2 separate regions of the Homo sapiens genome follow, and region 2 is linked to region 1. A link means that fine-mapping ties the variant in region 1 to the expression of a gene that starts in the linked region. Tissue or cell type: cerebellum. Region 1 holds a variant in brackets; the other region holds the start of a gene. All regions are shown on one strand. Distances are from middle to middle.

What was found. PIP is the estimated chance that this variant, and not a neighbour inherited with it, causes the effect.
Region 2: VCAN starts here. The variant in region 1 is fine-mapped to the expression of VCAN in cerebellum (GTEx, PIP above 0.99).

Annotation. Positions count from the first base shown.
Region 1 is chr5:82,620,529-82,628,793 of GRCh38, forward strand. No RefSeq gene overlaps it. Among named protein-coding and RNA genes, the nearest start is that of MIR3977, 220 kb to the right of the region's middle. The variant A/C (reference allele first, on the strand shown) is at 4,240.
Region 2 is chr5:83,467,086-83,475,085 of GRCh38, forward strand. VCAN (versican) reads left to right here and starts at 4,659. Exons shown (of 15, transcript NM_004385.5): 1 at 4,659-4,938. RefSeq lists an enhancer at 5,088-5,960 and silencers at 7,393-7,482, 7,513-7,732.

The DNA of each region.
Region 1 (8,265 bases):
ACAGATTCACAATAGTTAACTCAAGATGGAAGAAGAACAAAATTAGCGGACTGACACTGACTGACTTCAAGACTTACTATAAAGCTATGATAATCAAGATGGTATGGTATCCACCAAAGAATAGACAAAGAAACTAATGGAACAGAATAAAGGGCCCAGAAACAGTCCCTTTTAAACACAGTTAACTAATCTTTGACAAAGGAGCAAAGGCAAAACAATGGAACGAAGACAATTTTTTTCAACAAATGGGCGCTGGAACAACTGGACATCTACATACAAAAAAAATCTATACACAGCTGATGCCTTTCACAAAAAGTAACTCGAAATGTTTCATAGACCTAAATGTAAAATGCAAGATGAAAATTCCTAGAGGACAGCATAGGAAAAAACCTAGATGACCTTGAGTATGGCAATGACATTTTATATACAACATCAAAGGCATGATTGATGAAAGAAATAATTAATAAGGTAGACTTCATTAAAATTAAAAGTTTATCTGTGAAAGACGATGTCAAGTGGCTGAGAAGACAAGCCACAGACTGGGAGAAAAATATTTATAAAAGACACATCTTACAAAGGACTGTTATCCAAATACACAAAGAACTCATAAAACTCAACGAGCAGGGTTGCAGTGGTTTGTGGTTTGTGCTTGAATCTCAGCTACTCAAGATGCTGACACAGGAAGATCTCTTGAGGCCAGGAGCTCAAGATCAGCACGAACAACACACTTTTTTAGAGTCAAAAAGTGTTGCTTTTTGTCTCTAAAAAGGTCAGAGAACAGTATAAATCCACATTGATATAACATCACAAATCTAAGGCATCACCCTGGGTGGTCATGGGTCATGGTTAACCTTGCTGGGGGTGCCCCCCCATTTCACAAGTCAGTAGAGGCAAAGATAAACAAAGTTTCTAATAGCACAATTTTGGCTTGAGTTTCTCTATGTAGCCACACCTCACTGATTCTCCAAATCCAATTTTATTGAGAAATCTTGCTATGAATGCTTCCTTTCTAACTGACACCAGTACTATATTTCATTCTATGTTGTCTGTGCAATTTCTGATTCTGAATTTGCTGAGTCTGAGCACAGTTTCCCTATAACCTTCTTTATTCCCTTTCCAAAAAGATTGAGAAAAGTGGGTGACTCGATGTGTTGGTGACACCATTGAACACATTAAAACTCTCTCACTAAGTAGACCTAAGAACAGCCCTGGAATTTTTTTTTCCAGTGCTGGGTCACTAGTTGCTGTTGAAGACGTTCTCAAAAGCAGTTATGACAACCTGGAGAAGTGCAAGCTGCGGGAAATGATGTGTTTCCACAGTGGCATATGAAAGGGAAGTCTTTCATTCAAGAGCACAGAAAATGGCACATAGGTATGAATAGGGCGCCCTGCTAAGAATGCCATTAAATAAGCTTGCTATAGACTTTCAGAAATAGAACATTATTGCTTGGCACAGCCACCATTATACATTGGAGAGAAAAAGAATACATTTTTCACTATATGGCTTCTGTGTCCCTTCTATTAAGAGGATTAGAAGACTTTCCGCCGCTTGTGTTAAGCACTTCACCAACTTCCCATTAACAGAGAAAACACACAGTTTATATTGCCTTTCAGGACCCTAAGCATTTCTTCACACTTCTACAATTCAAAATTTCATGAAGACCATAATTTTTAAAAATATTTTCTGCGAATGGGTAGAAATTATTGACAGTGAGTCTCACTCAGCATCTCGGGGCAAACTGCTCTGTGTTCTGTTTTGCCCTAGTTTGTGGAATAAGCCCTCATAAAATTCACATGCCTAGGACCTGTGGTTGCCTGTGGAATTATTTCATCCAACAATGAAATATTTGGATGGCTGATGTGGGCTACCAGCTGGCTAAACATTGGTGAGACTGGGTGTATTGAAATGCTCTCAGTAGTAGAAGTTGGCAGACAGTTCATGGAGATACCAACCGCTATGGCAGGACTGTGTCCAGCCAATAACGGGGAATATTATAAGAGTGAAGGCAAAACCTCAAGCCTACAATATTTATAAAGTGTTTTGCAATTGCAAATAGATTTTCTAGAGTCATTTTTCTCACACTTAAAAGTTTGCTTGTATATCTAACATCATCCATATCCTGATATAAAAGTAAATATTCCTTTAAGGAAACAATGGTGGCTTGTTCAGGGCCCCAGACCAAATTTCTGGAGAGACCATCTCACTGTTATTGTTTAAGTCATGTTGACCTGCGGCTCAGAAAATGCATTCTCAGCAGCTGTCTTTATTCTTCTTACATGTTAGCTGTCTCCCATGACAAGCCTTTAGGGTTACCAAAAAAAAGATGTATGTTGAAAACTCTTATTGTTTGTTTTTCCTGCAGTTCCCTATAAAATGTCAGTATTTTTGAAGAGGTTCTCCTTAAATTGAACCCCTGAGGCTGGAGATTTACCAGGTTGATTTAGGAGTTTGAAATCCTGGAGTGTTTCCATAAAATGAGGATTTACAGTTCATAAATATAATGACAAAAGTGTGAAGATACATTTTTGTCCTTGAAAAACTACTGGAACAAAAGTACTTTTCATAAAAGGCCCACAAGCTGCTATTTCCTTCAGACAGAGGCCTATCCTGGCTAGGAAGAGTGAAGTGGCGTTTTATTGCCACTTGTTTAAGATGGTCTCCCTCTCTGCTTCTTGGGGAGCCACTTTCTCCTGACAGGTACACAGGTGGACATCGGAATTGAGCACTGCGACATTTAAGCAGCGACAAGTATAAAGAAATAACAGGAAAACATGTTAATAGGTAGAGCACATTTCTTTTATTTGCCCTGTTCCTGCCTGGGTTCAGCTTCTGGATCACTATAGTCTGGTTGTGATCTTTGCTCTCAGATCGTTAGCTGAGTTCCTTCTTGCATATGGCACCAAACAACCTGGTTAATAATTGACATTAAATTATCTGCTGTGACAAACTGTTTAGGGAAAATATATGCCATGCTTTGGCTTTATAAAATGTTAAGGGGGGAACACTAAGGAAACTGTGTCACTAATGGACCTTGTTTTTTTGTTTTTTTTTTTTTTTGAGATGGAATCTCTCTCTGTTGCCCAGGCTGGAGTGCAGTGACACAATCTCAGCTCACTGCAACCTCCACCTCCCAGGTTCAAGTGATTTTCCTGCCTCAGCCTCCTGAGTAGGTGGGATTACAGGCGCACACCACCATGCCCGGCTAATTTTTGTATTTTTAGTAGAGATGAGGTGTCACCATGTTGGTCAGGCTGGTCTCGAACTCCTGACTTCATGATCCGCCCGCCTCAGCCTCCCAAAGTGCTGGGGTTAGAGGTGTGAGCCACCATGCCTGGCAAATGGACCTTCTTGATAGATGATAGAAATGGTGTGAGGCTAGCAGTTATGTAGCTCTGCAGAAAATGGCCTAGGTTGAATAGCAGCAGTGGATTCATGAGTTTGGGGAAAACCTCTGGATTTTCTTTCAATTTAGTTGTGAATTGAATTGACATAATTTTCAAACTTAGGATGAATGTTGGAGCTTACCCTGAGGTTAAAGAAGGGACAGCCTTCCAGATTTGCTTACTTTATCCCAATTCTTGGAAAGGCAGAATCATGTCTCCATTCTACTCTGACTAATTCACTTCTATAAATGTCTAGTAACCTAGAAGGAGGGAGGAAGTGTTGTGCCCACCGCACACCTACTTCCCTTAATGCTGATGTTTGGTTATAATTAGAAATAACTTTATATTGTGGAAAGAGCACTATGCCATGAGTCAGACAAACTAAGTTCTAGTCATGGATTCACAACTGATAATAGTTTCCTGAGCAAAGCAAGATACATTGAGATTGAAAGGGAGTATTATTAACACTTATACTGGTCCACAGGCATTAACCAGGACTGTTGTGAGGAAACTGGGATGTATGGCCATTCTTCTACTTCCTGTGTGTTTGGGCAAGATAATATTCTAAGGGAATATTGAAGGAACCGAAGTAGAATGGGCTCCTTTTGGTAGTCTTTTCCTGTAAACCAGCATAATTTTTAAGAAGTAAGACCTAATGTAAGGAGAGGGCTGTGTTTGAAGAGACATTAGGGAATACTGTAGATCCCGATGGTGCAGTTAAGCAAGCCTATAGCTGTGTATATTTGGCATCTGACCAGAAATATACAGTTCTGACATTTTGGGGAATTAACTTTGCTGTTAAGTCATTGCAGCCCTGGAGACTAAAACTCAAGGACTCTTGGTCCTCCTCATGTC[A/C]TAATTTGACGTTCCTTGGCCTAAATCTGGCGATCAGCCTCGGGCCCTCTGCCTCATTGTTTTTTGCAGAATTAGAAGGAATCAAGATACTTTCTGTAGAGCTCCTGCTACCACACTGACAACTGTGTTCATGGCCCATGTAGCCCAAACCTCTTCAGCCATCTGCTCAGCCTACTGGCCACAGTTCTGAATTAAGCAACTGGAGGCCAGTCATTAACAAACACCTTCTGTTGGCTTATACACCATGACCAAGAAACTTCAATTGGCAGTTTGAGGTCATACAAGACACTTAACTTGAATATGTTTTATGCAGGAAAATCAACTCATAGGTACTGCCATGTAAGCATTATACATATTGATTAAATAATATTAATGCAAGGTCCATGGGCAGGTTATATACAAAATGACTCTGTTGCCACATAAGGAGGTTGTGGCTGTATGAGCATCCCTTTAAATCATGCAACAATATTTTGGAATATCTTTCAAGTAGGTAACAGGGCTAATTAGGTCATCAACAAAGATTTGTGTTCCCCTTCCATAGAGTAAAGCTGGGTGCTAGGAGGCTGCTGTCCACCTAGGATCTAGATTTCCCTGAATATCAGGCATAGGTGGAGCCTAGTGTCTAGTTTCTTCACAGTGAAACATGAAGAGATATCTTTCTGTAGTCTTGTCTCCATATACCAGTGGAATGTGACTGTCTCCAAGACCCTGGAAGAAGAACCCTGGGTCCCTACATAATCATGTGAAAGGCTACTAGCCAAGGAAATTAATGTGTGAGAAATATAACTCTATTGTGTTAAGATTTGAGGGGTGATATGGTTTGGCTGTGTCCCCACCCAAATCTCATCTTGAATTGTAACTCCAACAATTCCCACATGTCATGGGAGGGACCCAGTGGGAGGTAATTTAATCATGGGGGCATGTCTTTATTATGCTACTTGTGATAGTGGGTAAGTCTCATAAGATCCGATGGTTTTATAAATAGGAGTTCCCCTGCACAAGCCCTCTCTCTTTGCCTGACACCATCCATATAAGGGACTTGCTCCTCCTTGCCTTCTGCCATGATTGTGAGGCCTCCCCAGCCACATGGAACTGTAAGTCCATTAAACGTCTTTATCTTCCCAGTCTCGGGTATGTCTTTATCAGCAACATGAAAATGGACTATACAGTAAATTGGTACCAGTAGAGTGGGGTGCTGCTAAAAAGATACCCAAAAATGTGGAAGCGACTTTGGAACTGGGTAACAGACAGAGGTTGGAACAATTTGTAGGGCTCAGAAGATGACAGGAAAATGTGGGAAAATTTGGAACTCTCTAGAGACTTATTGAATGGCTTTGACCAAAATGCTGATAAAGATATGGACAATGAAATCCAGGCTCAGATGGTCTCAGATGGATATGAGGAACTTGTTGGGAACTGGAGCAAAGGTGACTCTTGTTATGTCTTATCAAAGAGACTGGCAGCATTTTGCCCCTGCCCTAGAGATTTGTGGAACTTTGAACTTGAGAGAGATGATTTAGGTTATCTGGCAGAAAAAAAATTCTAAGCAGCAAAGCATTCAAGACATGACTTCGGTGCTGTTAAAGGCATTCAGTTTCATAAGGGAAGGACAGCATAAAAGTTTGGAAAATTTGCAGGCTGACAATGTGATAAAAAAGAAAATCCCATCTTCTTAGGAGAAATTCAAAGTGGCTGCAGATATTTGCAGAAGTAATGAGGAGCCCAGTGTTAATCCCCAAGACAATGGGGAAAATGTCTCCAGGGCATGTCAGAGGGTTCTTCATGCAGCCCTTCCCATCACAGCCCTGGAGGCCTAAGAGCATAAAATGGTTTTGTGGTCTGGGCCTAGAATCCCTGTGCTGTGTGCAGCCTAGGGACTTGGTTCTCTGTGTCCCAGCTGCTCCAGCCATGGCCAAAATGGGTCAATGTAGAGCTCAGGCTGTAGCTTCAGAGGGTGTAAGCCCCAAGCCTTGGTAGCTTCCACATGGTGTTGAGCCTGCGAGTGCACAGAAGTCAAGAATTGGGGTTTGGGAACCTCCATCAAGATTTCAGAGGATGTATTGAAATGCCTGGATGCCCAAGCAGAAGTTTGCTGCAGGGGTGGGGCCATCATGGAGAACCTTGGCTAGGGCAGTGCAGAAGGGAAATGTGGGGCTGGAGCCCACACACAGAGTCACAACTGGAGCACTGCCTAGTGGAGCTGTGAGGAGAGGGCTACCATCCTTCAGACCCCACAATGGTAGTTCCACCAACAGGTTGCACTGTGCACCTGGAAAAGCCACAGACACTCAACCCCAGCCTGTGAAAGCAGCCAGGAATGAGGTTGTACCCTGCAAAGCCACAGGAGTGGAGCTGCCCAAGACCATGCGAAACCACCTCTTGCAATATGTGACTCAGATGTGAAACGTGGAGTCAAAGGAAATCATTTTGGAACTTTAAGATTTGACTGCCCCATTGGGTTTCAGATGTGCATGCGGCCTGTAGCCTCTTTGTTTTGGCCAATTTCTCCCATTTGGAATGGCTGTATTTACCTAATGCTTGTACCCCCATTGTATCTAGGAGGTAACTAACTTGCTTTTGATTTTACAGGCTTATAGGCAGAAGGGACTTGCCTTTTTTCAGATAAGACTTTGGACTGTGGACTTTTGAGTTAATGCTGAAATTAGTTAAGATTTTGGGGAACTGTTAGGAAGGCATGATTGGTTTTGAAATGTGAGGACATGAGATTTCGGAGGGGCCAGGGGCAGAATGATATGGTTTGGCTGCATCCCCACCCAAATCTCATCTTGAATTGTAGCTCCCATAATTTCCAAGTGTTATGGGAGGGACCCAATGGGAGATAATTGAATCATGGGGGCACTTTCTCCTATACTATTCTCATAGTAGTGAATAAGTCTTATGAGATCTGATGGTGTTATAAGGGGAAACTCTTTTCACTTGATTCTCATTCACTCTCTTGCCACCGCCACGTAAGAAGTGCCTTTTGCCTTCCACAATGATTGTGAGGCCTTCCTAGCCACATTGAACTGTAAGTCCATTGAACCTCTTTCTTTTGTAAATTGCCCAGTCTCAGATATGTCTTTATCAGCAGCATGAAAAGGGACTAATACAAGGAGTTATCTGTTAGAGAAGCTAATGTGTTATTAATTAATACAGCTAAGCATGGTTGATTTATTTATAATTTACTTTGTTTCACAAAATATTTGAGATAACCTACAAGATTACATACATTTAAATGAAAATAAATATAAGAAAATAAAAATTAGAATATAAGGCTAAGATCAATGGACATTTGGAGCAGAAATTTTCAGGATATGCAGAAATATAAAGTTGAGCCACAAATTTGGTTCCTGACTTCCTGGAAACCAAAGCGATAATAAGAAATTCTGTTTCATGTATATAATTCATATTGCCCATAAGGAGAAAGCATACTAATTTCTGAAGCACAGAAAAAAATTTCTGGCACTTCAGTTTGAAAGAAATTTATCTTACAGGGTGTCATATAAGAAATACTGAGGAATATGATAAACAGTGTCCTCTATCATATTTCTTAGTAAATACAGATAGTGACGTTTGTAAAGACATTTCTTGTAAGCTATTGGCATCCACCACGGGTCACTTGTCAATGTGATTATGGTGGTGGTGGCTAGACACAGAGATAAATAAGATCTATATCCTGAACCAGAGAAACTCAGTTTCTAGTGGGAAAGAAGGATATGTTATGCAGAAAATGATAATACAGAGTGATAAGTACTGGGAGAGGAGAATTAATTAGCATGTTCTGGTCAATTTTATAAAGGTTTTTGTTTCTTTCCTTAATGATTCAAAAAAAAACAGCCTTATTTTTCTTGGCTGTATTTTATTTTAATAACATAAATTTCCAAGATAAGAGTAGGGGACTAGACTTGTGAGTCACTCTTAAGGTGGTAGCTCACAGTTTCTGATTCCTGTAACTGGAAAACATGAGGATGGTAGGCAGAGGCTACAGAAAAAACACAGGTTTTGGGTCACATATTCCTGGGCTTG
Region 2 (8,000 bases), 850 kb after region 1:
GGAATTATTGCAACAAATATTTGACCTTTGATTTGTAGGATTAAAATGTGATTTCTCATATTTTAATAGGAGCAAGCATTAGTCCTGCAATTCTTTTTGTCAATAGAATAAAAATGGAATGTATGCTTGCTGCTTCTACATGCCGGTTGATACCCATGCTGAACACTTTTCTTACAACACAGAGGTTTCCTTGTTTTCTGTCTTGCGTTCTACCTTTGCTCACCACAGAGACATTAATGATGCCATGTGTCTTTTTGCACCATCAGTGCAGCAGCTTTCATTATGCTCCTTGTCTCGGTCCCACTGTAGTCTAATTAAATAAATGGAAACGGGTAGTCACTGAAAATAAACAGCAACTGCAAAAGTTTTGCCTCTTAAGAAACCTTCTGCATTGTATTCCGCCCTGCCTCATTGATTCTAAGATCTCTACCGCTTCCTTGTGTTCAGAAACCAGACTCTTCAGTTTGTCTTGCTTCAGTCAGACAAATGCTTTATAAAAATGACCTATATTTTTCAGACTGTGGGGAGAGAAGAAAAAGACTTTGAGAAAGTGACTAAGGAGGGAGTAAGAGTGATACAATCTTTGATTCAATTTAGTTGGACTGTGTTCTTTATGCCTTCATCTTTTTCTTTATAAAAAAGATAGCGTTTTTGATGCTCTGCTCCAGGCAGCCTCCCAGGGTGAGTGCAGATGTGCTGAGCCATTTGGCTGCCTTGAGGACCGGCTCAGAGAGCCTCTCTTCTCACTAATGAAGTCATCTCCTCTCGGCAGCCCGGCCTCTCCCATCACTCCATGTTGGAACTTGGCTTTGGCTTGCATAGTTCTGTCGTGATGTAGATGGTCTTTCAGTTAAGTTCTAGAGAAATCTGCTCAACCATGAACAGGACATTTACAGCACAGGAGAAAAAAAAATTTATTAAAACAAATATTTTACTGTAACATTTTGATTTGGGGGTTGGAGAGCAAAAACTCAATATCTGATGTCTGGGAAAAATCTAATGTTTTATGGCTTTCTAAGGAAATTTGTCTGTGTTTAATTTATCAGAGCAATTTATATACTTCGGGTTAAAGCACAATGAGATTGCCACCATCACTTTGCCTTTTGCAAGATTTCTTTTTTAAGAATAAAAAGAAGGCAATAAAGACCTTGTATTTCTGCCTTTCCTAGAAAGCCAAAGAGAATTCAAAGTGCTGGATGAAATGTCTGTCCCTAATTTGCAGTGTTTTATTTAAAAAAAAAATTATGACACAATCTTAGAGGATAGGCTTCCTTTTTCCAGGGTCTTTGAAAGTTAAAAGTACATTTTTAATCTGTAGCATTACTGTATCATCCAGTGAGGATAATTTGCTTAGTTGTGCCTAGGACCAGTCAGATCAAGGAGTTGAAACTAAGCTCTTTCTGAATTTGAATGGGACTGGAATCTTGTCATCCCTAGAGCAGCAATAGATGATGCCATGTCTAAGAACACTTCACCTGATCAATAAAAAAGGAGAAGTCTGAAATGTAATCCTAAAGAACCTCAGAAGGAGGTTTAGATGAAGATAATAAAATTCCCTGGAGACACATCTGCCATCTACACCTTTCCTCTCCAAGTCATTGGCTTGCTGCCCCTGAGCTCAGCCAAATTCCCAAAGACAAGATCAAAGCAAGGAAGCAAGGCACATAGCTTCTGGCTTATGGTTTCTTTTAGACACAAGCATTGTGAATGAAGATCTTGCTTTATTTATACCTGGGATCTTGGAGTTTTCACAAAGAATATCCCCAGTACAAGGATGTGATTTAAAGGGGGACTCACAGAATAATATTTTAATTACTGTTTGATTCATACTTGAGTGTAATGGACAAATAAATACAATTTTAGTTATAAAACCTGAAAAATATATATTTTCCCATTCAAAAACTTCTGATAGTTTTGTCAGGCATTGGAGAATCAGAAATAAATGCTCTCTCATTTTCTTTCTCTTGATGAAGGAAAGTCATTAAAAACAGTTACATAGAAATAATAATACAACTGTAGACTCTATTCTAAATATAGCTGGTATGTTTTCCTTTTTCTTTTTTATCCATTCTCCATTTTAGACAGCTAGAGGGGAAAGTCTGCCCTAGAGATAGAAAGAAGATATCCATGGGGTATAATTTCATTTTAGTTATCTGATAGCCTGAAGAAGTATTTAATTTTCTGAATAATAATGTTACAAGTCAAAGAAGAGAAAAGACAGGCAGTTTAAAGCTTTTCAACATTGTGCATATTCTAATTCCTTAAGTCAGCCCTGAGAAAGTGCCTTTGTCCTGTAGAAGTATTTGGTCAAGTGTTGTGAAGTCTATTGGCATTAAAAGAAACTAAAAATTTTGGAGGATTAGAGAATCAAATTTGGCAACATAAATGAAAACATCTCAGAATGTAAAAAGTATCTAACCCATCACTTTCAATCATGTTCCATTATATACAGATGGCATTATTTATAGTGAATGTTAACTATTAACATTTCCCTAAAAATGGGCATTAATCTGCTATTAGTTGCTTGTTTCTGATCTAGTTCTCCTTTGTTGAAAGGTTTTACTTAACTGTATCATAAAGGGACAAAAGGGTAAAAGATAATAAGCTTTTCAGACTGGCAGATCTGTCACTTACAAAATGGCCTTGGGCAGGTTACTTGAACTCTTTGAAACTCAACTAGATTTACTCAAATTTAAGAATGAGAATACAAATCCACATCTTGAAGTGTTTCACAGAAAGGTCTATCTTAATGTCTGGAGTATATATTTCAATGAACATTCATTTTATTTTATTTCTCTCCATTCCTGAATCAAGCAATCTTGAATCTAAAGTTGCTATGATTAGCACTGAAAAGACCACTGGACTATTAATTGTGTGACTTTGGGACAGTAACTTTCTGCACCTTAGTTTGTTTACATGTTATACATGAAGGTTGAAGTCTGATTCTGCTCTGTGACTATCATTCTAAACATCTGATGAAATCAAATTTCAGTGTTTGGAATGGTAGTACAATAAATTTACTAAGAATAAATAATTCACTGCAAAAACACATTGATTTCCAAATGATGTAACTGACAGTTATATTACTGCAGAGGGCTGATAAATAACAAAAGAAATGAAAGATGCACATGGTGAGAACTGAAATTATCCTGACAAGTCTTCTACCTGTTTATCACTTAAAATCAATGACCATGCTGAATGCCTACAAATTACAAAATATAAAAGAAATCTTATAAATGCGCATGTACAGGAGTCTAAGTTACTAAAAGTTTTAAAGCATAAGTTTAAACCAAACTAATCAAAGAAGTTGAGAGGAAAAATTGGCTTTCATCTTTAATCACTACTGTTTTGAGGTCCTATGTTTAATATAATTTTCTAAGTAGAGGCTTCAGAGAGAAGAGTTGTGAGGATACTTTCATATTTGTGTAGAAGGAAAAGTTTGCCATCCATTCTAGTATCCCTAGTGTTATACTGATGTGCACCTTGGATTTATTTTGTTCCTATTGTATAAACTCATACTTGACTTCAAAGAAAAGGAAAATCCAAAGTCCCTCTTTTCTAAGGGGACAGAAATCCTTTGTGTCAACTGTTTGACCCTTTTCTCTGTAAGGTCCTATTGGAAATCTTTTGTAACACAATGCAGGGGACTCTTCCATGTGTTGATGCTGTTTACACAGTGGGGTGGGCCTGACTGAAGAAAAAAAATCGCATATACGCATGAAAGATTATGGTCTTATTTCCGGAAAGCATGAAAGGTGATTGATACTTCCAAGAAGTCCCTGTTACTCAGGAAAATTATCAAATATTCTACTCAGAGATACTTGGAAAGACTGAAGGAAAGGAAGAACGAAGAAAGCAGAATCTAGACTTATGTGGGGAGAGATTTGTGGCAGAGGAAAAGTATTCTCTTTGAATCCGACAAGGGATTTGCCTGGGGGAATTTCCTGTCCAGCCTTTTATTACCAGGGTCTTTTGAAGCCGGGCTCCCCATTGGGCAGTTCCCTGGGAGTGCAGTGGGGAATTCTTACACTTTCCCTCTAGGTCCCCGAAGGATCTCGTTTTCTCAGTGTCTCTTTCAGGTTGGCAGGAGCCTTGAGCCTGACACTTCCCTTTGATGGGACAGGCAAGCTCTGTGGGCGCGTAAACACGCTGTAACCAAGTTCTTTGCTGATTTTACAGTTTTGTGTGCTCCCGAGAAGAAGTGATCGTACTCAATTGTCTATTGCTGGCCTGCCCCCTAAGAGCCTGGGGGCTCCTTTCCCCTAACCCAGAACTAGCTGCACGGGGGGCGGGGAAATGGGGGTGGGGAAGGAGTGGGAGGGCAGTGGTTTCCGCGAGCAGAGCGATGTTACTGAGTGAGTCCCTGAATGGGGAGCGCTGCTGTCCCCAAGCCGATTGGTACTTCTTGTCAGGAAGAAACGCCAAGAGGTGGGAGTGCCTGGGGAGGGAGGCAGGCGGTCCCTACCGCAGGCGCGGGGAGCTGCCTTTCCGCCCCTCCGCCTGCTTTCCAAGCCTGGACTCTTAGGAGTGGCTGAAGCTGCGGAGCGCTTTTGGAGCCTGTGAATGAACCCTCCTCCTCTCCCTCCTCCTTCTTCTCGCTGAGTCTCCTCCTCGGCTCTGACGGTACAGTGATATAATGATGATGGGTGTCACAACCCGCATTTGAACTTGCAGGCGAGCTGCCCCGAGCCTTTCTGGGGAAGAACTCCAGGCGTGCGGACGCAACAGCCGAGAACATTAGGTGTTGTGGACAGGAGCTGGGACCAAGATCTTCGGCCAGCCCCGCATCCTCCCGCATCTTCCAGCACCGTCCCGCACCCTCCGCATCCTTCCCCGGGCCACCACGCTTCCTATGTGACCCGCCTGGGCAACGCCGAACCCAGTCGCGCAGCGCTGCAGTGAATTTTCCCCCCAAACTGCAATAAGCCGCCTTCCAAGGTAATCACGTTTCTTTTGTTCCCCCCTTAAAAAACAAAAACAAAAAACTTATAGAAAAAAACCCGCGAGCTTAGAAAAAAGAAGCAATTGGTAGAAGGCTTTAATTAAGGCAAAGAGCTGTAAGGCGAAGTTAAGAAAATGTAGGCACTTAAAAAATGCAGGTAACTTTCATAAGGGCTTTTGGGGAGAGGCATACAGAGGGACCTTGGTGTTGAAAAAGATTCAGACAAAAGAAACCCAGGGTGGGGTGGGGGGTAAAATGACTAACGGAATTGGGGGAAGGGAGGGAATAAATTGTAAAGAAATCATAGAAAAGTGGTGGGTTCTTGAGCTGGAGAGAAGAGAGGGACCTTTGGCACTTTGATTTTTTTGTTGTTGTTGTTCTTAACACGCTCGAGGCAAAAGTTTGAATGGGGACTACCAAGACTTGCCACAGACAAGTCCCCGAAGCCGCCTTGGTGCAGGCCACCTGGTTTCCCAGCCCCTGGTGTGTGGTCAGTGCCTGGTGTTCCTGGAAAGCCACTCCCGGGCAGCTCCTGACAGTGCGACCCGGCGCCCAAGCAGCCTGGGACCTTGCGCGGACCTGACCCCTTCAGACCGCAGGCAGTCTGGGAGGAGGTCCGGCCGGGGGAGGTGCAGGATCCCCGCCGTGTCTCTTTGACGACTTGGGGACTGTCACGGTTCTCTCCCGGCGCCCCTGGGTTCTTTTGTCCTGCACGCGGTGCGAAGGGGCCAGCAGGGAAGGAGCAGAGGATGGGGGGTGGGGTTGTTGGAGCCCCGCGGAGGTCTGGGAGGCCCCTGGGCGGGAAAAGCCTGTTCTGAATCGGCAGGGATGTGCAACAATTTTTCTCACCCTGAAGAGTGAAATAGGGTCTGTCGCTCCCATCTCAACAAGCAAACCGGCACCCAGAGCGCACTGCAGACAAAGGTGGCTCGGGGACCCGAATCAGGGGCCTCTGGGTCAGTCCTCTCGCCCAGACTACAGGAGTCCTCCGTTTCCTTACATATTCCCCACCCTCTCCTAGTTCTCCGCTCTAGTTGAGCAACTTTACTGGCAGGTCTAGCGGCAGCGGCGCGCGCGTGTGCCGGGAGCCCCGGGGGACGTCCTCGGCTGGAGCGCCCCACCGTCCTGCAGAGGCGTGGGCGCTGTAGGGCGACATCCCTGGTGCGTGCAGACCTAGGGCATCCGGGTTGTTCTGGCCCGCGGTCTGTGTCACTGGGCGTGGAGCGGTCTGGGTGTTAGGCAGAGGAGAGCGGGGTAGAAAAATAGTGTCATAGCCTAAACTATTTGCTCTCCAATCCAACTGCGTCTCGGCAAGTCCTGCATGTCCCTGGGAGATGCTGCGGGAAGGGGGAGAAATCTACACGGCGCCTGGAGAGTTGTCCTGCCGCGCGCACACCCGCGGCAGAGTCTCTCTGGGTCGCGTTCCTCATCTTTGTGTCTCCCTCTGTCTCCATCTTCTCTGCCTCCCTTCCCCTCTCCCAGCCTCTGTTCTCTCTCTCTAGCTTCTGCGTCCCCTCCCCCACAGCTGACAAATGAATGGCTAGTGTGAAATCCCTGCCTTTCCCGTGCTCCAAGGCAGCAGGGAGGGAGGAGCGAGGGAGGCGGTGCGCTCCTTCGGATCTGCCCCCAGTTCAGCTCACAAGACTTGCAGAACCTAGATGTCTAGGAATTGGGAGTTTTGCGGCGGGTGTGGGCGCCCCCTGATGGAGAAGTCCCGCACAGGCGGAGAAAAACAAGCCCCCCAGACCAAGCGAGCATCTTTCACAACCTTGTGTTCAAGGATGGAAGGCCCTAGTTTTCCCTTAAGTCATTCATTTTGCACTCCACAATCTGCGGCGTACATCTAGGAGTTTGGAGGACCCTGAAAAAAGGTCTTGGTCTGTGCAAAGTGCAGAGATGCCTTCTCGCGAGTCGGCTGGAACGCACGCGGCGCCCTGGGTCCAGTTCGCCGCTTAGTGGACGAACGCACATGGCCAGGGTGGAGCCAGGTTTCGGAGGTCTAGACGCGCCACCCTGGGCGTCTTTAAGAAAGATAATACACATACCGTGCTCTCAAAACCCATGACCACTTGAACCCAACGCTAGGGCCCCGCCCCAGGATATTGCAAAAGAAGGGCTCCTAATCCAAAACTTAAACTTCCTCAACTTCAGGGCGGGCGTCGGACGGGAAAGTGGAGAGAAGGCGGGCAGTGGGAGGAAAAAAGAAAGGGAAGGAAGGGAAGTGGAAGGAAAGAGGACCGTGGAGGGGAGGAAAAGGAGAAAGGAACGGAGATGGGGCAGATGGCATTCAAACAGCCAGGAACGGACCGGAAGGGTTCGTTTCGGGGTTTGGGTCTGAATTTCGAGACTCGTTTTAGGATACTCTTTTCCCTTTCCCAGCGGCAACAAATGTGACTGCAGAGGCGTGCCGGGATGGAAGGGTGGGAAAGAACTAGACAAGCGGAGGTGGTCCAGCCCCGCCCAAAGGGGCTGGGTCTGGGGCCCGCCCCCACTCGCTCACCTCGCGCCAAGGGAGGACCCGCAACGGGCGCTCCCCGCAGCGGCTGGGTTAGCCAGCCGCCACGTGGGTTGGCGCTTCGGCTCCCAGCCGAGACGGGTGTGACTTCCTGGGCTCAGAGACTGCAGTACAGCCGCACAGGCGGCCGGCGCAGCCGAGGCCCCCACCCACCGAGGCCAATGGGGGCGGGGCGGGGAAGGCAGGGCCCAGCTTAACCGAGAGAGCCGAGTGGCCTCGCCCCCAGGATTCGGGGCCGGCTGCTTCTGGAGCTGACCCGAGTTCCATCCAGACAGCGCTGAACACTCTTATTAAAAGGCTATTTAAGTTTTATTTTATTTTATTTTATTTTTGCTTGCTTCTTGGGAGTGGTAGGAGGGGCATCGTGCTTTTGTTTTGAGGCAGGGGAGAGGTTAAAATTTACTCCAAGCAAACTTTTTGTCAGAAAAATGAGACTTTATACCGTATTCCATTTGTTGACTTTTTAAATACATTCAGGTCACTCTAAAGCCCATTCTTAGTCAATTAACAGATTAATTTCGTTCCAGACTGTCATAAAGAGTT